3 separate regions of the Homo sapiens genome follow, and regions 1 and 3 are each reported to be linked to region 2. Evidence: microRNA targets listed by miRTarBase, many of them from high-throughput screens and not tested one by one. Region 2 holds a microRNA gene; each other region holds the end of a gene's coding sequence.
What was found. Region 2 holds the annotated microRNA hsa-miR-4441 (ACAGGGAGGAGAUUGUA, at 3,642-3,658, shown strand). A microRNA usually pairs through its seed, bases 2 to 8, with sites in the 3' UTR of a target mRNA and lowers its output. Matches are read on the target gene's strand: a 7mer-m8 pairs with bases 2 to 8, a 7mer-A1 pairs with bases 2 to 7 and ends in A, and an 8mer does both.

Region 1 (7,284 bases), not on the chromosome of region 2:
TTTGTCCTTTCCCCTCCCTCCAACAGACGATGGGAAGATCTTCCATGGCAGTGGTGTGGGGGACCCCTTTGGGCCACGCTGTTACAAAGGGGACATCATGGGCTGTGGAATCATGTTCCCCCGGGACTACATTTTGGACAGTGAGGGTGAGTGGGGTAGGGGTGGCCAGCCAGGCTGCTTGGGGCCGAGGGTGGAAAGGCACCACAGGAGCTCAGGTTTCCTGGTCTCCTAGGGGACAGTGATGACAGTTGTGACACAGTGATCCTGTCTCCGACTGCCCGGGCCGTCCGGAACGTGCGGAATGTCATGTACCTGCACCAGGAAGGGGAAGAGGAAGAGGAGGAAGAGGAAGAGGAAGAGGATGGGGAAGAGATAGAGCCGGAGCATGAGGGCAGGAAGGTGGTGGTGAGTACGGAGAGTTTGAGGTGGGACCAGGGTTTTTGGGTCTGGGCAAAGGGTGGGTATTAGTGGGGAACAGAACTCACAACCAGGGTGGGAAAGACGGGAAGCTCTGGCGTTGCCCAAGGGCTGTTCCCAGCTCCAGGGGTTGCTGAGATCGGGAGACGGTCTTGGGAGGCTGTTTTCCGGCCTCAGCACGCCCTCTGGTGGTCACTTCCCATAACACCTTAACTGCCCCTCTCCAGCCCCGCTGGAAGCTGGGGTGATTGGGGTTCAGGCCTGTGGAGCTCCAGCATCCTCAGGGAAGAGGCCACAGCCTGCTTGCTCCATTCTTCTCCCCACCTCCTCCCCAGGTTTTCTTCACTCGGAATGGCAAGATCATTGGGAAGAAGGATGCTGTTGTTCCTTCTGGAGGCTTCTTCCCCACCATTGGAATGCTGAGCTGCGGGGAGAAAGTCAAAGTAGATCTGCACCCCTTGAGTGGCTAGGGCCTCCCCTCCAGACCTGCTCCTTCTCCCTGCTCACCCTCTGCTGGGCCAGGCACCCAGTTCCTGACTTCCCAGAGGCTTCGTTTACCCAGCAGGCCCCTGGAGGTGTGTAGTCACTCTGCCCCCACTGGCTCAGGCCCCTGTCACGCTTCTCTGTGCCCACGTTTCTGACCTGGTGCTGCCACTGTTGTCAGTCCCTGGGCCTGAGTCCCTGGTTGGACAGGAATGGACCCAAAGAATGGTGTTGGTATGTGGGTGGTCCCACTCGCTTTGGTCAGTGGGCTTCTGGGTCCCCCTTTCCCTCACCGGCCCTGTGTGGGTGGAGAGGCGTGAGCACCCTATCTCAGCTGCTATTCGGGCATGATGCTTTGTAGAGGGTAGAGTAGACAGCCCCCTCCCCTACTCACCATGGTATTTCTCCTTGAATTCCTCTTTCTTGTTTTCTTTCCTGGTTGTGTGAACCAGTTGCTGCTGTCATACCCCTGGCAGGGCCAGGGGACCTCTCTTTGGTCATCTCTGTCCTTTCACTGGCTGCTGCCCCAGGAAGACTCCTCTAGGCTCTCCATCTTTCCCTTGAGAGCTGGCTCCCCACCCCAACCTGCTCAGGCACCACAGAGGATCTAGGTCTCTGGCTCCCCATACCTGGACCCACATGGGTGGGTGCCTGTTGCATGTTTAAGAGAGAGGGGCTGTGAGGTGACAGGGCACTAGGGCCTTCACTCCTTTCTCCCCTTCCATCCTTTCTTTACCAGTGCCACCCATGTCCCTAGCTCCCGGGTATTGGGGCTGAGGCTCTGGGGCCTGTCTCCCTGCCAGCGTGAGGGCAAGACCCCAGAGCCTTAGCTGAGCAAGCCCAGAGGGGCAGCGTGGCCCCTCCCTCCCCTTTTCCTGCCCCGTCCCATGCCTCAGCTTGCTGCTTGTGCCAGTTGCCTGTTTCGCTTCAGTGTTTGATTCTAGCACTTACATGTGTCCTCCCCACCAAGCCCTCTATCTCCTTCTAATCCTTCAACCCCTGGCCCCCTCCCCGTAACAGTGACTTTTCCAGGGAGGAAGAGGCAGCAGGAGCTGTTGGCCTTGGTTTGCACAGAGCGGGTAGGGCTGTAGGGAAAGCGGGTGAGCTGTTGTGCTGCTGGGCCTCCCTTTGGCCCTCGCTTCCCACCCTACGATGTATGAAATGTATGTACAGACCAGAGATGTTTATACAGCCGATAAAGATGGAGTTTCCGTATTTATCAGTATGGCCGGAACCAGGAGCCTTTCTAGTCCACTGGGCTAGGAACAGGACTGCTGGATGGGGGCAGCCGAAGGCAGCTTGCTCATGGGGAGATGTGGACCAATGTTGGGCCAGGGATGGGAATCATATGTTCCATGGGCCTGGCTACAGGCCTGAGCACAGATACGTCCCCTGGGAGATGAGGCTTTGACCTTCCTGTGAATAAGTGTTGACTCCAATTTCGGCTAAAGTTTATAGAAATTCTTTATTATTAGACAAAAATAGACTCTCTTTTTTCCCCTATTCATGTGATCCTACTCTGAATCTCTGCTCAGAGGAGGCAGTGACTCGCTCCCCACCCCTCTCCCATCCCTGCCGTGCTGGCACCTGCAGCTGGGTGGAACTGGCAGGGGCTGATCCCCTGGAGGGCTGACGTTCTCCTGCAGGTGGGGCTGCCTGATCTCCTTCGGGGCTCAACTGCTGATGCCTCCTCACCCCTCACACACCCATCTCTGCCATCTGCTCACATGCAAGGTCATCTTGTGGGCCTGTCCACTTAACTTAGCAGGCTGGGGGCGGGGAAGGAGAGCAGTGTCCCAGGCCTGATGCCCACTCCTCATTCCTAAGGGAGGGTGCTTTCTCCTGGGTCTCCTGGGTCCAGGCCAGGGGATGTGAGGGCTGTGGGGTGCTGGGAGGGGGGCAGTGTTGATGTGGGCTCTGAGCTTGTGGCCTTCCTTCATTTTCTCTGGCCCAGTAGAACTTTGGTGATGAAGGTGACAATGGCGCCAGCAGGCTGATCTGGGTCAAGCTCTGCAAAGAGGTGACACACATTCTCCCAGGGGCTTCCCGGCTTCTTGGCCACGAAACCAAAGATCCTAGGGGGATAAAGGGTGGGGAAGGGGCTTAACATTCCTTCCACAAGGGAATGTAGCTGGCCTTGGTGAGACAAATCAAATGCCAGCATTGAGAGGACAGCAGCGCCCTGGTCCCTTGGAAGGAAGAGGCTGAATTCGTGGGGAGGCTTACTTGGAGGTGGTCCCGTCTGGGTTGGTCCATCTGCAGAAGGAGAAGAAGGTGAAGATGCACACCCCAGGGGACAGCTGCTGAAGGGGGGCCGGGGCCGGGGCTGGGGCTGGGGCTGGGAGCTGGGACCTGGTGGGACCATGGGGATTTGGGGCAAAGGGTTTGGAGGGAGAGTCACCTCCGGTCTTGAGGGTCAGTGCTGGAGAAGGTGATGCTGTTCACTGGATAATGGCGGCGAAAGAAGAGCCTGCAAGGAGGAGGGTGAGGAAGGTCACACTCAGAAACATGAGCCCCCAGGGGCCTTAAGCATGGGGTTCTACAGGGCTGAGTATACATACTTCCTTTGGTTGTCCGTCAGTGTAATGCCCTGGGCTGACACCTTGAAGTGGACAACAGCTGGTGTCGGGCGGGGGCTACAGCTCAGAGCTGCAGAGCTGGCCCGGGCCACAGCTTGGGGGCCCGTCAGTGACTCTGTCTCCACTGAGGTCAAGTAGAGCACGCTGCAGGCTACAGGGGCAGGGAGTGGGTCAGGGAGGGAGTGCCCATCCCCTAGCCACCCCCACCAGCTCTTGCACATTCCCCAGCTACTGCTGTCACATGCTTTACAATCACATAGGTGACTTGTTAAAAAGGCAGATTCCATGACTCTACTGGATCTACAGTCAGAAGCGAGGCAGAGAAGCCTCCCTGCTACCACCCCATGATCGTCTTGTTCATGAGACTTTGAGAACCTAGGCTGAGGACCCAATTCCTCATCCCCGACAGTATGGGGCTCCCCTGCCCTCATGGGTTGGCCAGGGCTCACCCACCTCAAGGCCTTTCAGTGCCCCATGCCCTGTATCCACAATGCCCCCTTGGTGCCCAGGGAGAGGGAGGGGAGTGGAGGGGAAGTCTCTACCAGCACCCTGACGCAGGAGGTCTGCCGCTGTGCTCATGTTGGTGGGCACTGGAGCCTCTGGGGTCTCTTCCAGAGGATCTGAGGGCAATGAGAACCGACAGGGAAGCTCAGAAGGCAGAGTGTTCCCCAGGCTGGAGCACTCCCTCTGCTTCCCCAAGGGAAGGCGGGGAGCCAAGACCTCTGGATCCTGCTTTGGCTGCAGGGGGTAGGGAGAGGTGGGGAGGACAGATGACCAGACACTCACCTTTGCTGGGAATGCGCAGGCAGCAGGGCAGGGAGATGGGGGAGATGGAGTGCTGGGAGACCAAGGCGGACAGGCTGCCTGTGGGAGAGGAGGTAGGAAAGTCCCGAGATGCCCAGGGTGCCCCGCCTTTCCCTTCCATCCTCCTGAGATCCCTTGGCATCTCCCTAAACCGACCCAACGTAGCCTTCCCCAGGCTCCTGCTTCTCACCAAAGTAGGGCTCACTGGGGCAGCCCTTGATCTTCACCCCTTTGGGCCCAGTCTCGATGAGGAAATGGCGGACCAGCTGTTCCACGGGGTCCCCTGAGAGGAGGCGAGGGGAAGATTGCGGCTTTAGGATTCCAGGTTCCAGCTTCTTCCCTAATGGGATTCTTTCCCGAGCAGCTGAGGTCTTTTCCTACCTCTCCCCTCTACAGCGGCATGGCCAGCACAGCACCCCCACCTGCCCTGTTACCTTGCCTCTGGCACCACCCCCAACTTCATCCCCACCCCACTCAGGTTTGGGTGTTCTGTACCTTTCCAGGGCTGGGCACTGGGTGGCGGTGTGGCCACCTTGAGGGCCAGCCCATAAGCTCCTTGGAATGAATGACTGTCCCTGATCAGGAAGGCCCCAGGGTCCTTGTCCTTCAGCAGGGCAATGGCTGCAGGGTGAGGGGTAGCGGGCAGTGGGGAGGAGTTTTCACAGGGGTGGACTGAGCCCCATGCAGCCCCCCTCCTCTGCTGCCAAGCTCCATGGTCTCTGCCCTGACAGCTGTGGTGGCGGTAAGAGTCTGAGGCCAGGGCTCTAGAGTTCACAGGGGTTTTGACCATGTTGGATCTCACCGCCTTGGCCCAAAGCCCAGAATCACCTGCTGGTAAACACTCAGCCAAGAGTAAACACAGCTCAGACAGGAGGAGCCAAGAGCTTCAACAGGATGGGACTTAAAGCCAAGACAGACACCCTGGAAGGTGGGATGCAGTGGGGTGGGGGCAGGCTGGCTTCTCACCTTGGTCACGGGACAGGTGTGGCTTGTACCAGAACTTGGATGTATCCTGGACAAACTTGACATTGCTTTGGCTCTCTTGTGTAGGAGGCTCTAGGACAGGGAGGGAGTAGGTTCAGACCCCAGGGTACCCGGGTCCCCATCCATGCTACATCCCAGGAGAAAGGGTTCTCTCAAGGTGGCACCAACCCCCTCAAGGCCTTTATACCTGGGGTTTGGGGGACATTATCTGAGAGCAGAGGTGCGAAGGTGACATGGTGACTGATGCCTCTGGCTGGCGATGATGCCTGCTCTGGGCCCCAGGGTCCTGGCTGTTGCCCCGGCCCGGGCAGGTGGCGTTTCTCAGGAAGTGGGGGCTGGCTAAGGCCATTGGTGTCATAGGAGGCAGCCAGGGGGAAAGCAGGTGTAGGTGAGCTCTGAGGCGGCTCTGGGCTGGCCACAAGCCAGGGCATCTGGGAAGGCACAGGAGTGAGGGGAGACCCATCTGGGCTGTCGGGGGGGCCTCGAGGGCCTTGCCAGGGGGCGTGGCGGAGGCCAGGAAGTGTGGTGGGCACAGGGCTCCGAGGACTGGCGCCATCTGAGTGGCCCCCTGGACTCCTTTCCTGAGGCCAGTCACTGGGCGAGCTGGGAGGGAAGGTCGGAGAGACTGGGCTAGGGGCCAGAGGCTCAGGCCCACTTCCCGACGGCAGCTCAGGGGCCTTTCCGGTGCCTGCCTGGGAAACAGGGGGCAAGGCCTCGCCAGGACTCAGTCTCTGAGTGGGCGCTGAGGTGGGGGACCTGGTGTCCTGTCGCCGGGTGCTGTAGGGTGGAAGGGCAGATGGTCAGCAGAGCCCCCATTGTGGCTGCTCCCACCCCACCTGCCTTCATCAACTGCTTGGACAAGAAAGCACTCGAGCATCCCCGGCCCCTCTGCATACCTTTCCTTGCCCTGGACTGGACTGCTGGTGTGCAGGGGCGTGGAGGGACCAGACAACTCTGACGAAGCACTGCATGGGGCATCTCGGGGAGACCGAGGCAGTGTGCTGTGCCCACTGGGGCCCTCCCTCCAGGACACCGGCTCCAGCGACTCTGCAGTGAAGGGGAGAGGTGGGCTGTGAGCAGGATGGGGCTCTTCTGTCTGGCTTAGCTGTTTCTCACCCTGTTCCCCCTTGACTTCCCCACCATCTTCCAGAACCTCCTCTGCCCTGGGCACTCCGCACTCTGGTGCCCCTCACCTGCAGATGCCAAAGGTCCTGCTGAGGCCAGGTGCCCAGGCAATGGGTACCTGTCCCCTCCCTCCTCCGTAGGGATCTCGTAGCTCAGCTTCCTAGATTGTGGATAGGGCGGGCTGCCCGGGGAAATGGAGCCAGCCCGTGGGGAGTGGGCACCAGGGCTGGGATACCCTCTGCCCTCTCCTGGAGAGCCACAGCTATGAGGCACACGGCCATATGCTGGGCAGTAACTGGGAACTGCTCCTCCATAGCTGTATGTCACCAGGGCAGGGTACCCTGGATGCCCATACCTGCCTTCGGGGCACATGGTGTAGGAGCAGCCCTCGTGCCCTTCCTCGCCTGCCTTGGGTGGCTTCAGGCAGCTGTAGTCAGGCATCGGGGCATGGTGATGCCCACAGGCAGGCAAGAGCAGAGGCAGCGGGTGCCCAGGCCGCACTGGGTGCAGGAGAGGCTTGCCAGCCTCACTTGCCCACCCTTCTCCAGCCTCCCTCTCCAGCCGCAGTCCATACAAGGCTGCTGTAGGCAGCGCCAGCTTCTCCTCGCAGGCTGGGCATGGGTATAGGGCAGGCAGCCCAGGGTCCTCCAGGATGACCACCTCCCGGTAGCCTGGGGCGCGGTAGCCAAAGTCCCCAGTGGCTGGTTTCCCCATCTCAGGTGGGTAGGGGTATAGCCCCTCTGACAGCGATCGGCAGAGGCGCCTCTTCTCCATCGAGGCCTCGGCGTAGCCCTGGGGGGATCCCTCATAGCCCCCGTAGGCCAGTCGCCTCCTCTCCAGGGTTCCCTCTGGCCGGTAGTAGCCCCCATTGGGAACCCCGCAGGGCTCCCGG
Region 2 (7,284 bases):
CATGGTGGCGCATGCCTATAATCCCAGCTACTTGGGAGGCTGAGGCTGGCGAATCGCTTGAACCTGGGAGGTGGAGGTTGCGGCGAGCCGAGTCACGCCATTGCACTCCAGCCTGGGTGACAGAGTGAGACTCCGTCTCAAAAAAAACTAAAAAATTAAAAAGTAATAAAAAAATAAAAATAGCACTAATGTCTTGCCTGTGGACAGCAGCTGGTTCTCACACCTGCCCGGCGTCATTCTTGGGACATGTTGAAGTACATGAAGGAATCCTGGCCCCACACAGATACGTAATTGGAAATGGGAGCAGGATTTTAATAGACTTTTCAGAGGTATTCTAATTGTGGGTATTCTTTGACAGTATACCAAAAATTCAGCAAGTGGTAGTGTCTTGAAAATTAGCTGCAGTGTGGATCTGAAATCAAATCGTGGCCTCCTCCCCCTCCGTTTTGTTTAACTGAACCATTAGCCCTTCTTGGAGATCAAATCGATCCTTCGTTCATGGGTGATTGGTAGCACCGTGCGTTGGTCATTTGGAAACTTAGCTTCACGGAGTTACATGGATCTTCCATATTCTGACCCATACAGTATCAAAAAAGTCATTAATTTTTGAAACCATTAATATCACCCCCATCTCACCAGAAGTCTTATAAGTAGTGAGAGAGCCAGCAGGCTCACAGGGGCAGAGCCGTGTGTTCCAAACTTGTAATTTTCACTGGAAAGCTCACAGTTTCTCACGCTTCCTTCCCGTCTCTTTACTCGGGATGTTAAAAGGACGTGTTTGAGGGCGGAGATCTACTAAAATGTCTGAATACTGCTTCATCGAGCACATTGTTAAGAGAAGCTGCTCACACACACACACACGCCCTGGTGCTGTTCCCTGCCCGCCGTCTACCCTCCGGTGCTTCAGCACCATCGGCGCAGGTGTCAGGGCAGTGAAAAGAGTACATAGAGCCTCAGGACTACGTGGACTACAGACCCTCAGCAGGGGTCGGGACCGAGGGGTCTGCAGCCTACACTCGGAAGCACTGAGTGCAGAAACGCAGGGAGGCCAGGGCCTCTTGAGAGCGTTTGCCGCCACCTCATGGGCTGCCCTCGCCCCTTCCTGAGCCTGGTCCCTGCGGCGTCCGGCTCACCCCGTCCATGGCATTGTCACTCATGGTTGGCCGGCACTTTTTTTGAGGCTTCATTACAGACCTTGACCACACAGTGTCCTGTTGCTGGTGAGACCAGGAGAGGACTGGAATCCATTTTTATGGCAGCAACTACAGAGTGGTTTGCAGATGGATTTTTGACGCAGAAGTGATGGGGCAGAGGACAGCGTTTCTGCCCAGTGTGAGAGGAGCTGTTTCGTGGGCTGCCCACTTGCCCGCCATCCTGAGAGCTGAACTGCAGTAAGGACAGAGGCAGTCACGTGAAGGCCAAGCTGGGACACAACGTCTCTGCCCCGCGGCCAAGTCCTTGAGTGGGGCCCCTTCTGCTTCATCTTCCTCCAGTGGCCACCTAGCGGGTCCTGGTCCCGAGCCGACGGGGAGTGAGCACATCCTTTCCACATCACCCCGACCCCTGAGCCAAGGGCACCACGCCTCACCGACAGTTCTGAGAGTGGGCAGGCACCCACCTGTTATCCTAGTGACTGCGTTTCGGGGGAACCATTAGTAGCCCCCAGACCTCTTTAGGAGAAGGGCCCAGGCTTCCCGGAAAGGCTCCCAGCTGGCCCTGCATCCTGTCCCCATCACTGTGGCCAGGGTGCAGCAAGAAACTGTCCTCCTGTGTAGCCCAACTCTGCTAAAAGTTGAGTGTGCAACCATTTTCCCGTGGCTACAAAGTGTGTCTTTTGTTGCTCTCTCCTGGCTGTCTGGTGTCACCTGCAGAATGGCTTTGCTGTGGTCCGCCCCCCTGGACACCATGCGGAGGAGAGCACGCCCATGTGAGTACACGCCGCAGCCCCGCACAGCAGGGGAACCCAGGTCTTCCTTCCCTCCCTTAGGGCTGGGTGGGTGTGTGAGTGACTGCGGGGAGCTGGGCTGCTGTTTGCTGGCCACCCAGGATGTGCCGCATGCCGGCTTGGCTCCAGCTCCTGGGTGTGGAGTGCAGATGCCAAAGTCTGCGAGCATCACTGCTCGGTTATGACGGAGACAGATCAGAGGAAAGGATGGGAAAGGGTCTGTGGAGGTTAGTCCAGAGAAGCCTCTGGTTGTTGAGTAGTTGTCAACACTTGGGAGAGGAAACACCACTCACCCTCAAGTGAGTCACTGCAGCACTTGCTTGTCTAGAGGACTCAGGTCATTTTGCGCATGGCCTTTTAGCTGCCTGCCGAATGCCTGGTACTGACGCAGCAAGCCACAGAGCCACGTCCATGCAGGCAGCTATCCTGATGCTGTTTCGGGTCTTTCAGAGACTGCCGACGGTCCATACAGCTGAGGATCTGGGCAGGGTGGCGAGTGTGGGGTGTGGGTCCTCCCGGATCCATCCCTGTGTGTCCAGAGCCAGTGGCAGGACAGACCCGCAGCTGTCTGTGGAGTGCCTTGCAGCCTGGGTGGTGAATGAATGATCTATCCCGTCAAAGAGCATGCTGTCTCCTGGGACGGTAGCCGCTCTAGTGAGGAGGGGTGGTGCTAGAAAGAGCGTCTCCCCATGCTCTGGAGATGGAGAAGGCGTGCCTGATCTTGCCAGCTTCGGTGAGGAGGAGGTGGCATAGGGCTCTGCCTTGGAGAGTTGGAGCAGCAGTTTGTCAGATGGCAACGCAAGAACAAGTGCAGATACAAGTTCACTATCAGGCTGTGGCCAGGAAGCAGTCAGAACAAGACAGAACCGCAGGGGCCCGGGAAAGGGCCTCCCTGTCACCCCTGGGAAGTCAGGCGTCCACGGAGGGGCCGGCAGGACGTGAGAGATAGTCAGATCCGCGTGTTAGAGCAGAATCTCCTTCACGTACAGGGAGGAGACTGTACGTGAGAGATAGTCAGATCCACATGTTAGAGCAGAGTCTCCTTCGTGTGCAGGGAAGAGATTGTACGTGAGAGACAGTCAGATCCGCGTGTTAGAGCAGATTCTCCTTCATGTACGGGGAGGAGACTGTACGTGAGAGATAGTCAGATCCGCGTGTTAGAGCAGATTCTCCTTCATGTACAGGGAGGAGACTGTACGTGCGAGATAGTCAGATCCGCGTGTTAGAGCAGAGTCTCCTTCGTGTACAGGGAAGAGACTACGTGCGAGATAGTCAGATCCGCGTGTTAGAGCAGAGTCTCCTTCATGTGCAGGGAGGAGACTGTACGTGAGAGATAGTCAGATCCGCGTGTTAGAGCAGAGTCTCCTTCGTGTACAGGGAAGAGACTGTACGTGCGAGATAGTCAGATCCGCGTGTTAGAGCAGAGTCTCCTTCGTGTACAGGGAAGAGACTACGTGCGAGATAGTCAGATCCGCGTGTTAGAGCAGAGTCTCCTTCATGTGCAGGGAGGAGACTGTACGTGAGAGATAGTCAGATCCGCGTGTTAGAGCAGAGTCTCCTTCGTGTACAGGGAAGAGACTGTACGTGCGAGATAGTCAGATCCGCGTGTTAGAGCAGAGTCTCCTTCGTGTACAGGGAGGAGACTGTACGTGAGAGATAGTCAGATCCGCATGTTAGAGCAGAGTCTCCTTCGTGTACAGGGAGGAGATTGTACGTGAGAGATAGTCAGATCCGCGTGTTAGAGCAGAGTCTCCTTCATGTACAGGGAGGAGATTGTACGTGAGAGATAGTCAGATCCGCGTGTTAGAGCAGAGTGTCCTTCGTGTACAGGGAGGAGATTGTAACCGCCAGGGAGGGATGCTTGTTGGAATCTTTGTAGCTTTACCTGAAAACCACGTGTTTGCTCCACATCCCAGAACAGTCACTTGGGCACCAGGCTTCCTGTTTGTTTCATTTCTCTGAAGTTTCTTTTCTAATTTGAACCTGAGTTGTTGGATATTCCAAATAATAAACCTCAGAGGAGACAAACGAATTGTGTTTTGTTGCAGCTCTTCGCTGTGCTCCCCGTGAGCCGCTGCAGGAGCTCAGCGTCTAGGATGTCCTGGGGCGTGTGGGCTTCCCCATGCCAGCCCGGATTCTGAAAACAAAACAACTAGTGTTTCTCCGTTTCTGTGGTCATTCGGACAAAGGGAATTTGAGATCAAGAAGGTTTTCGTTGTTATTTGAATCACTTTCATAGCTTGTTTTCTTGGTCTCTTGAGTAAGACTCTCTAAAATTAAAGGTAATTTATGTATTGGAATATAGGAAGGTCAGCAGGAAGCAACTGAGATGAACGGCTGCCATGTCTCCTGGGGCGTGGCGGCAGCTCCTGAGAGGAAGGGTTCCAGGTGAAGATGAGGGAAATGTTGGTAACATGTGAAATAGGGTTCCCTACCAGAGGAGCGTGGGGGACCTCCAAGCAGGAGAGTGTGTGTGTGTGTGTGTGTGTGTGTGTGTGTCTGTCTGTCTCAGTATGGAACTGTGGATGTGTGTGATAGGTATATGCTTATGTGTATATGTGTGTGTGTGCTTGTATGTGTCTGTGGTTTGTGTGTGTGTGAGTGTTTCTGTATGGGGTGTTCATGTGTATCTGTGCATGTGTGTCTACGTGGGGGGGGTGGGTATGGGCGTATCTGTGGGGCATATATGTGTGTAGGGCGTTTGCATGGTGTGTGTGTCTCTATCTGTGGGGTGTGGGGTGTGTGTGGGGTGTGTGTCTGTGTGGAGTGTGTGTGGGGTGTGTGTCTGTGGTGTATGGGCGTATCTGTGGGGCATGTATGTGTGTAGGGCGTGTTGCATGGTGTGTGTGTCTGTGTGGGAGGGTGTGTCTCTGTGGTGTGTGTGTCTGTGTGGGGTGTACGTGTGTCTCTGTCTGTGGTGTGTGTGTCTGTGGGGGGTGTGTGTGTGTCTCTGTCTGTGGTGTGTGTGTCTGTGTGGGGTGTGTGCATGTCCGTGTCGGTTAGCCGACCCTATGGCATTGGCTAAGATTCCCCAGTGGCTTGTTTGGGAGCTGTGTGTGTGTGTGTGTGTGTGTGCGCGCGCACGCGTGTGAGTGTGTCTGCATGTGGGGTGTGTACGTGTCTGTCTGTTAACCGATTCTCCGGCATCACTGAGGGTTCCCTGCGACGTATTCAGGAGCTCTGCACTCACAGAGACCTCTTAGGTCTGCGTGGACCCCGAGTGGCTCTCTGGCGGGCCGTGGAGAAACTGGCCACCGCCCACCTGCGCTTCGTCTCCAGCGTCAGTTCTCTCCCGCAGGGGCTTTTGCTACTTCAACTCCGTGGCCGTGGCAGCCAAGCTTCTGCAGCAGAGGTTGAGCGTGAGCAAGATCCTCATCGTGGACTGGGTAAGCAGAGCCGCCTTGGCCAGCGCAGCTCAGGTTGCTCCTTTGCCGTCCCCGAGCGGACAGCAGCGTGTGGACAGAGGAGCTGGGCTCTTGGATGTGGGAAGCTTAGGTTTCTGGAAACGGTCTCAAAGATGCGGAGAAGTAAAGCCCCAAACCTGCTACAAGTCATTGTACAGCTTCCGTCAGCCGACCCTGGCGAATGGGGTCCTGGCGTGTCTAAAAATGTGCCTGTGGGTGACGGCAGCGGCCAGGGCCACCCTCGACGAGATCTTCTTGGAAGACAGGTGTTGGGGAGGAGGCTGTGTCCACATCTACTTTGCGTGTGTGGCCTGGGAGCCTGGGAGGACCCTCACCCTGGTCGAAGGCGGCAGTCTGCTTCTCAGTCACCCCAGTGAAGCCCGTGCCTTCCTGCTGCTGTGTGGGCACCTGGTCCTGCTGGAATGGGGGGTGCCACTGCCCCCAAAAGAGTCATCTCTTTTTAAATAATGCTATATGATGTCCGAATCTGAATTCCACGAATAGGTATACTCATTCTTATACCGGAAATTAATATTCAAGATATTCATCTTATTACTCTTTTTAAAGCCAGATATATACATATTTAGTGTTCTCTTTGGTATTTATGATTTATTTCATAATTTTTAAGGGAAAAAAGCAGGCCCTGTCAGGTAGGGTTATGATTTGAATTGGAGAAGTCCTTCTGAGTTTGGGTAAAGAAACAATATGGCACAGCCAGGACAGCCATGCTGTTTCGGAGAGGCAGGTCAGGGGATGCGGCAGAGCAGCGGGTCCCCCACACCCAAGGACCTGCGAGCCGGGAGCCCTCCCTCAGCTCCTCCTAAGGGAGCAGGTAGGAGTGCCTGGGAAGAGAGCAGTGTGAGGTCGCTGATGGCTAAAGACTGGGGACCCATCCCCAAAAGAGTGAAGCGCTAGGACACGCAGACAGGCTGCGTAGACCCTGTGTGGCGTGCTCCCTGCGCGCTGAGCTGTGATATTGCCCATGTACACACCATGCGGACAGGGTCATCTCAGTGTGAAGCCACATGTCGGGAAAGCCTCCATGTGCGTCTTCACAGCGATTACCTACTCTGTGGGGTGGAAGGTTCTTGTCCATCGCTCCTCACCTGTAGCTGCCCTTCCGCCTTTTCTGTGATGAGCACAGATAACGGAGCAGCAAGTTCTCGTGCTGGGAACATCAGGGCTGCATGCTGTCTTCTCAGGCACACAGCTGTTCTCAGCGGGGCCACCCCCTCGCCCGCCCATCCTGGTGACCACCTGCCCTGTGGCCCGGGGCAGAACAGCCACGGTCAGTAAAGCCCCAGGCTGCCTGTGCTCTCTGCTGCATCTGACCTGTGGGTTTTGTGATTAAGAAACGGTGCTTGCCATTTGGGCACAGGGGCCTGGACCCCGTACTGTGTGTGCCTGTCACTCACGGACACCTGGGACTTGTCTCCTGCCGAACGCCCTGCCTGGCATGGAATTGGCACCTCCCACGTGCCTGCAAGCGGGCAGGCCACAGCCAGTGACCTCCTTCCTGACAGAGGCTGAGGAAGTGGCTCACTTGTCAGAGACACGGCAGGTGTAGGAAATTGATCAGATGGCTTCGTCTGGGAAATGGTGGCCTCTAGGCCTGGCTGAACTCCAGCCCCATCGGCTGCTGGAGTCAGGATTGTGCCATGGCGCTAAGGGCGAGGGAAACAGTGCTGCAGACGCGAACATTGGCCCTTAGAACCCCTGCGACCCTGCACCACGTAGCCCTGACCCACACAGCCCCAGAATCGCGCCTGCCGGGTACGGGCCCAGCTGGAGGGTAATGTCATTCCTGAGCAGGAGCCGTTGTCACTAAGCACAACTGGGGTTGGGGACGGCCCTCAGGGGAGGCCACCCTCCAATACCTGCCTCAGCCCTGAAGTAGTTGTCCCTGCTCTTTAAGGACGTGCACCATGGAAACGG
Region 3 (7,284 bases), not on the chromosome of region 2:
ACTGATAATCATGATTTTAGGATAACCAGTTTATCTACAGCTACCCTTGTGGTCCTGGGATGAATGGTGGGTTATATATCAGCATATGTAACACATATACCCATGTCCCTGCATAAGGGAGAATGCATCACCTCTCTAACATGCATCACACATTTTCCTCAACACTGACCTAAAATGTTTGTCAGTGAGAATTTTAAGAATTCAAAATTCAACAAAATTATTGTTTAATGTGAAGCAGTAGAAAAAACAGAGTCTTAACAACTCCCCAAAGCAATGTAATACAGGCAGCCTTTGGTTTTTTAAAGTGTAGATCATAATAAAAAGATGTCTTTCACTACACTCCGCAGAGGCCATTGATCAAGGTAGAAATAAAGGGGGAGTACATGGCATGTACTTCAGGACTTCAACTAAAGGGTAATTGTGGAATGAGAATTTCAAATACAACATAGTAACTGAAACACTAGAAACCAAAGTATGTGTCTGGGATCCCTGCTTGCAGAAAAACATTTATGAAGCTAGTAAGGGGCGTCTTCACCAGCAGCAGGCCAAATGCCGGCAAGTGCTCTGTAGGAGGGGCCACTTAGGAAAGTACCAGGGCTGCCTTGGAGTGGAGAAGGAGGAGTGGCCACCAGAGGGTATACAAGTGGTTGCCCTTTAAAAGAAGAGGCTCAGGAGCAGACATGTCTTTATGCTAGCCTGAAGTCATGCATGTGTGGCTATACATAGCCTGTGATTCAGAAGACTTTTCAACTTTGGTTTTCATAAAAATGGCAAGCAATGATGGATTACATTTTAAAAGTGAAAGCCCTTGTAGTATGAGTAATGATTCAGTTTTACTAATAAAAGGATCTCCGTATTGCTCAGATTTTCAGAGAAACAAAATGGTCAACTGGTGTGTTATTCCTTCCTCGTCCCTCTGATAACGGTACTGACAAACTGGAAAATAATGAAATATTAGAGCAAAAGAGAAATGTGTAATAACACAAGAGAAGTCTATTAGGATATAAGGAAGATAAGTAGACAGAGCAGGCTTAAAATGAAGCTTGAACAAGCCATCTGCAGAAACAGAAAACAGGGTAGATGGGACACCCAAACAGGGTGCCACAGCTTTCCAACTTAGATCCAGGTTATGAGAGAATGAGCCAAGAACACAACCTAAAAGTTTTCAATTTGAGGTATATTCACTGTTGCTATTCTATAGTATTAATCAAAATATTATTGACTAATAATCCTGTTATTATTAATCACAACTTTTGGTTTTGAGTCTTAGTTTTTTAACAGCAATATTTTTTGTAACACCAGGAAAATCCTCACAAGTTATTGCCCCAGGGGCTGGAATCTGGAGCTAGCGTCCCTAAGAGACTAATATGGGAGAATTTGAAACATCTGCTATTTCTACCATAATTCTTATTCCCAATCAACATTACACCACATACCACAGCAAAAAGGACAATTAGATACTAGTTTTGAATTAATTTGAAAAGTTTAAAGACAACAAAAAGAAACAGCCCTCTGTTTCTGTAACAGAGTCTGGAAACTGCCCAAGAATTACAACGAAGTTCTTTAATGAGGTAGATGTAATAGGCATTTATACCTTCATCTAGGCTGTAGTCATCTAATGAATTGCTTGGATGTTGTAGTAAAGGAAATTGTATAAAATTGTTTTAAAAAGATGTATAAAATTTAAAAGTACGAAAAGAAATACAGGAACAAGAATAGATGTAGTGAAAACTTGGCACTATTTCTGACAAAGTATTTTTTTCAAAGTTTATTCCTAAATGTGAGCAAAGCAGTCATAAATGAATGTCAGAAGCAGTTGTAAAGATGGGGCATGGTTAGTTGTGGCCAGCTGTTTTATAAAAAATAGATTCTGTTTATACTTGCAGAAAGATTCTGTTAATGAGCATTTCATTGTAGCTGACAAAGTAGTTGGGCTAGGAGGCCAGTCACTATGACTTTGCACATATTACAACTGCTCTAGGCCTCAGTTTTATCACCCATATAAATCAAGGGGGTTGACCAGAAGCTTTAAAACTCTTCTGAAATTTATTATGATTACTATTAGAAACTCTGTTCCCACCAACCTTATCATCAGGGGTTATGGATAAAATAGGAGGCTCTTTTGGGCAGCCTGGTCTTCTAAACCAAAGGACAAAATGCTCTTCCCAAAATCATATGATTTTTCTACCTTGTCTTCTGCCTTTAGTTTCTAATCTTGTCTAGCCTCTTTGTTTGATAGATGAGAACCGAACCAGAGATGGTAAGTGACTGGCCTGGGGTACCAGAGCTAGTAAATGACAAAGCCAGAACTAGAATCCAGGTCTGCTATTCGTTAAGCCTACTGTTCTTTCCCTTAAGTGATACCACTCACTTGTCTTTCATCCCTGACAAAAAACAAAACATAAAACTGTGAGAAGCATCTGTTTAGATGATATCAGTGAGAAGTATAAATTATTTCAAAAATATAAATATGGATGTGATAATAAATGTTAATGCCTAAAAACACTAGCTTAGCAAGTGCATGGCAGACATTTTTCAGCAATCACTGGATATGATCTTGAAGTTAAAGGAATCTCTTAGGATGAGGAGGGGGTGGGGCAGGATACTTTGGAAGACATTTGGAGAATAAATAGAAGATTGGTGGAAAGTGATGAAAATTTCCCAGACCAGAATAGACACTGTGGACTACTAGAGCAGGGAGGGAGAGAGGAGGGCATGGATTAAAGAACTATCTGTTAGGTACTATGCTCACCACCTGGTGATGGGATCTGTACCCCAAACCTCAGCATCACTCAATATACTCATGTAACAAACCTGCACTTGTACCCCCTGAATTTGTTCCTTGGTGTGGGAACAAAAGTTTCCCAGATTAAGGAAATTCAAGGAGCTAAAGTACAGAGAGAAAAAATGGTATAATTTGGCTTAGAGTTAACTGCAACTTAAGTGAATGAAATGCCACATAAATGGGTATTTTACATATTTTTCATTATGTTCTATGACAAGAATTTTGGGGAAAGTGATGGATTGTGCTATCACAAGACTAAAAAGCATCACTACAAGCCACGGACTCCTATTTTGATGTTTGTGACCTGTCTCAGTAATAACAAGAGTCCTAAAACAGTTCAGGTTCATTGTCTCTGTTAACAAGAGTGGTTGGTAAGATTCAAAGGAACCAGTGGAATGTGAATTTTATGACACCATAATTATCTTCATGGGAGAACCACCAAAGTGCAGAAATGCAAATAGAAGAGAAATCTTTAAAAACCAAAGGGTATGGCAAGATAGATTTCTGCTCCTAGAAGCAAATTATTTTATTATAAGGAAGAAATATATTTAAGTAATTGGCTCTCAGCAAGGAGTAAGTGGCTTTTGTTTCTAGCTAATAAGATTTCATTTAAAATCTATTAATTGGGAGAAGAGAATAAACAAAGGAGCCCATACCAATAATAAATATTCAGTTCTTCTGAGGGATATGACAAAATTTTCCTTCAGTACTGTGGAACTCCTGGAGACCTTGCTCATGGTAATAAAGACAAGCCTAGATACCATAATATTAAAGTAATGAACAGGAAATAACACATTAAACACTCCAAGACAAAATAAGAATAAGAAATACATATATATTGAAAAAGTGATAAATGTAGGTATCCTGAGATTCTCAACTATAAAAAGAACAGTAATAGCAATTTGAATAATACACATAAAATCCTTAAGAGTGTCTGCTACATAACAAAGGCATAACAAATAATGGCTATTATTACAGCCAGGATGAAGAATACTAATAAGAGCTTTCAAACTGGACCAACCACTACTTCCGTGTTTCAAGTTCATTTTTAGCACATGAACATGATCACTGTTAGCCAGTGAAGTAGCTTCTGACTAGATCATTGATTAGATCTCACAAAAAACCAAAAATAGTATATGGAAACCAAGATGAGAGCAAAAGAAAACGTTACCTGAGTAGGCAGCTAAAACATATTTTGACATTATTTTTAAGCAGCATTCATAAGGTTCACGGAGCACAGATAATAAAAGAAAAAGCAATGTAGAAGTCTTAAAAACCAAAGGAAATTGCTATGAAAGAAACCCTAATGAAAGGTAAGAGATTTCCAAAGGAAACAGAGGGCAGGTGCAGTAGCTCATGCTTGTAATCCCAGCACTTTGGGAGGCTGAGGTGGGAGGATTGCTTGAGCCCAAGAGTTTGAGACCAGCCTGGACAACACAGACTCCATCTCTAAAAAAATAAAATAAAAAATTAGCTGAGTGTGGTGGCGCACACCTGTAGTCCCAGCTACTCTGGAGTCTGAGTTGGGAGGACTGTTTGAGCCCAGGAGGTTGAGGCTGCGGTGAGCCATGATGTTGCACAACTGCACTCCAGCCTGGGTGACAGCGTGAGGCCCTGTCTCCAAGAAAAAAAAAAAGGAACAGAGTCTTTGCATGCTTAATCCATGTTTATCTAATTTTAAAACAATACAAGACTGGTCATCTTTTTATCTACCAACCAAGGGTCAGTATACTTATTTTTATCTTAGTTTATTTCTAGGATGATCTTAATTTCTTTTTCCCTGTTTTATGAAGCATTTAGTTCCTTTCTGTTCCCAGTATGAAATTTATTTTTGAAGAATTCTACTTTTGTTTTCTTTAAAGCCAGGGACTTTTTCCCCTATTAATCTAATCCCAAAAATCAAAGGTGACGAAAAGAAAAGAAAATGCTCCCAGCCGTGGGAGCATATTCGTGGAAAGGACATTCAAGGCTACATGTAGGAAAGGGTAAAATATAAGAAAGATTCCATGCGGACCCTGATGAAGAGAAATCCTCATGCAATTTAATGGCTAAATGTGGAGGAGAAGCAAAGCTCTGGAAGGGTAGTGGGTGAAGATGTAATTATTATGGCTTTTCCTCTCGCTTCATTAATGGAAGTGCTGTTTGTGACTCAGCAGTCTCTTAATAGAGGTTCTGAAAGTTGCCAGATGGCTTATTAACAGATTGATCTATTCCAAATTTGCTCCCTTTCAGACATTCCAAGAGTCATAAATTGAGAAACTTCTATTTCTCAGAAATAATTAATAAGAACTTTGATTTTATTGCCTTTGCCCACTCTCCTGATTCTGTTCCCCTTTTCTTTAAAAACAACCCAAATACATTCCCCATACTACATACTGATTTTAGCAGTGAAATGAAAGAACTCTCTTTATATCTTCCTGTGTAAGGGCTCACAAAAACAGGCCCAGGGAACAGTGACCTAAAATCAGACAAATCCAGGTTCCCAGTCCCCATCACAGTTTCTCCATCCTACTAACACACTTAAGGCTCAAAAAGCAAAATTAATGCCCAAACAGCCTGTGAGGCACATAAAAATGGAAAAATTTTCTATCCTCATCATACCAGGCATCAGATAAGATACTAAAATCTTCCACAGACCATTCATTTAGAAGGGGTTCTAACCTTTAAAATCATGTACTAACATCATCAACACTACGACAGGGATCTTGGATCACACCCATGATGGCTTCTTTGTCAAGGAAGCAAGGAAGTTATATCATTTTGGTGCCTGGAAATTCCTATGTGGTCGATTGAACTGCAAAGATCTTGGATCCCTGTTAAAGGTTGTGGATCTCCACATAAATGATATCTCTGTTACAGAGAAAGAAGGGGCTGCTGCACTTGCTAGAATGTCTCTGGCTTTGTATCAGATGCTACAAATTTCATTTCAACCAGGCTTCCAGTGTGCCAAATGCCAAACTTCATGCTTTAGCAAGGGAAGAAAAGGTGAGATTCTAGGAACACACCAGACCTCTCAGAAGGAGTCGAAGCCTGCTTCACTTGGACAAAGCTTGGTCCCCCGTATTAGCACCAATCTCCTGTCATTTAGTTCCTCACAGATTAAATTATAGCTTCTCTCAGAGAAGACCTGGGTACGGAGAAGGAATTACGGTAGAAAGTAAAGTAGAAATTCCAAGGGCAAATATCCACAAGGTCAGACATCACAGCATCTGAGGCTATATAAGAAAGTGGAGGAATTCAATGAGCAGCAACTCGGGGGTGCTCAAGCTTCTCTAGTCCTGGTCCAGCCTCACGGCCCCACCTGTACTCCCATCATGGGCACCACCTCTTCAAGCCACAGCAAGTCCAATGGAGCTGAGGCTCGTGTTTGTCGGTGGTGAATTCGGCGTAGCCGCAGAAGGTATAGGAAGATGGCCAGTAGCACCACCAGGATACAGGCAAAGAAGAGATAGTGGTTGTATACAAAGGAGAGACGGAACCAGCTACCATGGGCTTGTCGGACACCTTCCTGCCGAAGATCCCTAGGGAAGAATTAAGAATTTGTAGGTGGAAAAAACTGTTAAGTTTCAAAGGGAGACATTTACTGATTTGAAAGGCCCAGTAGTGTTATCACATTTATTCCATCCACATAAACATTTTATGACACCAGCTCCACAGAGCAGGCAAAGCTGAAGAACATCCCCCGCCCCAGGAGCCCTTCTGTGTCTTCCTTCCCACGGCCCCCAGAAGGGACCTCCAGGCTTACACCCTCCAGAATCTAAGCCAAGATGGGAAGGCCTTTGAAATTGAATCCCAAAAAATGAACAGAAAGGCTAGATTGATCACCTGTAACATAAGTCTTAAAATATGGCTTATAAATACAGTACTAATGAGAATAGGGTATCCCCTGAATCCAATAAAGAAATCAGAGTGTGTGTGTCTAAATCCTTTTTTTAAAGTTGCTATGCAGCCAAGTGCAGTGGCACATGCTTGTAATCAAAGCACTTTGGGAGGCCAGGCCAGGAGAATTGCTTGAAGCCAGGAGTTCAAAACCAGCCTGGTCAACATAACAAGACCCCATCTCTGCAAAAGAAAAATCAAAAAATTAGCTGGGCATGGTGGCGAGCACCTGTATTCCCAGCTACTCAGAAGGCTGAGGCAGGAGAATCACTTGAGCCCAGGAGTTCAAGGTTGCAGTGAGCTATGAACACGGCACTGCCACCACACTCAGCCTGGGCAACAGAGCAAGACCCTGTCTCAAAAAAATAATAAAAAATAAAGGTACTATGTTTCCTTAGGATCTAGGATATATCTAAATAAAGCTGTTACCTGATCAACTGTATTACAGTCAGATAAAAATAAGGCGATATGAAAACCAAGTGTAATGGTCCACCTGGCTAGAACAGAAGCCACTCTTCAGCAGTCCAGATCCAGATCTAGTTTTGTCTGGTTTGACCTGCAGTGTTCTTCTAGAATGCGAATCTCTAAACTGAAAGACTTCATAAAAAATATGGATTTCT

Region 1: the mRNA of SPRYD3 is a reported target of hsa-miR-4441. Seed matches in the 3' UTR shown: 7mer-m8 at 913-919 and 7mer-m8 at 1,693-1,699.
Region 3: the mRNA of ENTPD7 is a reported target of hsa-miR-4441. Seed matches in the 3' UTR shown: 7mer-m8 at 2,695-2,701.

What each region holds. Positions count from the first base shown.
Region 1 is chr12:53,059,435-53,066,718 of GRCh38, reverse strand. SPRYD3 (SPRY domain containing 3) reads left to right here. Exons shown (of 11, transcript NM_032840.3): 9 at 27-146; 10 at 233-405; 11 at 753-2,403. The coding sequence ends at 887. TNS2 (tensin 2) reads right to left here. Exons shown (of 29, transcript NM_170754.4): 18 at 6,461-7,284; 19 at 6,164-6,314; 20 at 5,455-6,044; 21 at 5,250-5,339; 22 at 4,779-4,904; 23 at 4,474-4,566; 24 at 4,266-4,343; 25 at 4,022-4,099; 26 at 3,462-3,630; 27 at 3,302-3,370; 28 at 3,127-3,156; 29 at 2,340-2,975. The coding sequence ends at 2,837. Among named protein-coding and RNA genes, the nearest start is that of MIR6757, 6.1 kb to the right of the region's middle. RefSeq lists an enhancer at 279-780.
Region 2 is chr2:239,082,202-239,089,485 of GRCh38, reverse strand. It overlaps MIR4441 (microRNA 4441), which reads left to right and starts at 3,560; the gene lies at 3,560-3,659. HDAC4 (histone deacetylase 4) reads left to right here. Exons shown (of 27, transcript NM_001378414.1): 19 at 1,872-1,927; 20 at 5,244-5,331; 21 at 7,265-7,284.
Region 3 is chr10:99,703,474-99,710,757 of GRCh38, reverse strand. ENTPD7 (ectonucleoside triphosphate diphosphohydrolase 7) reads right to left here. Exons shown (of 13, transcript NM_020354.5): 13 at 1-6,306. The coding sequence ends at 6,075. It also overlaps a transcript of COX15 not described here. Among named protein-coding and RNA genes, the nearest start is that of COX15, 25 kb to the left of the region's middle.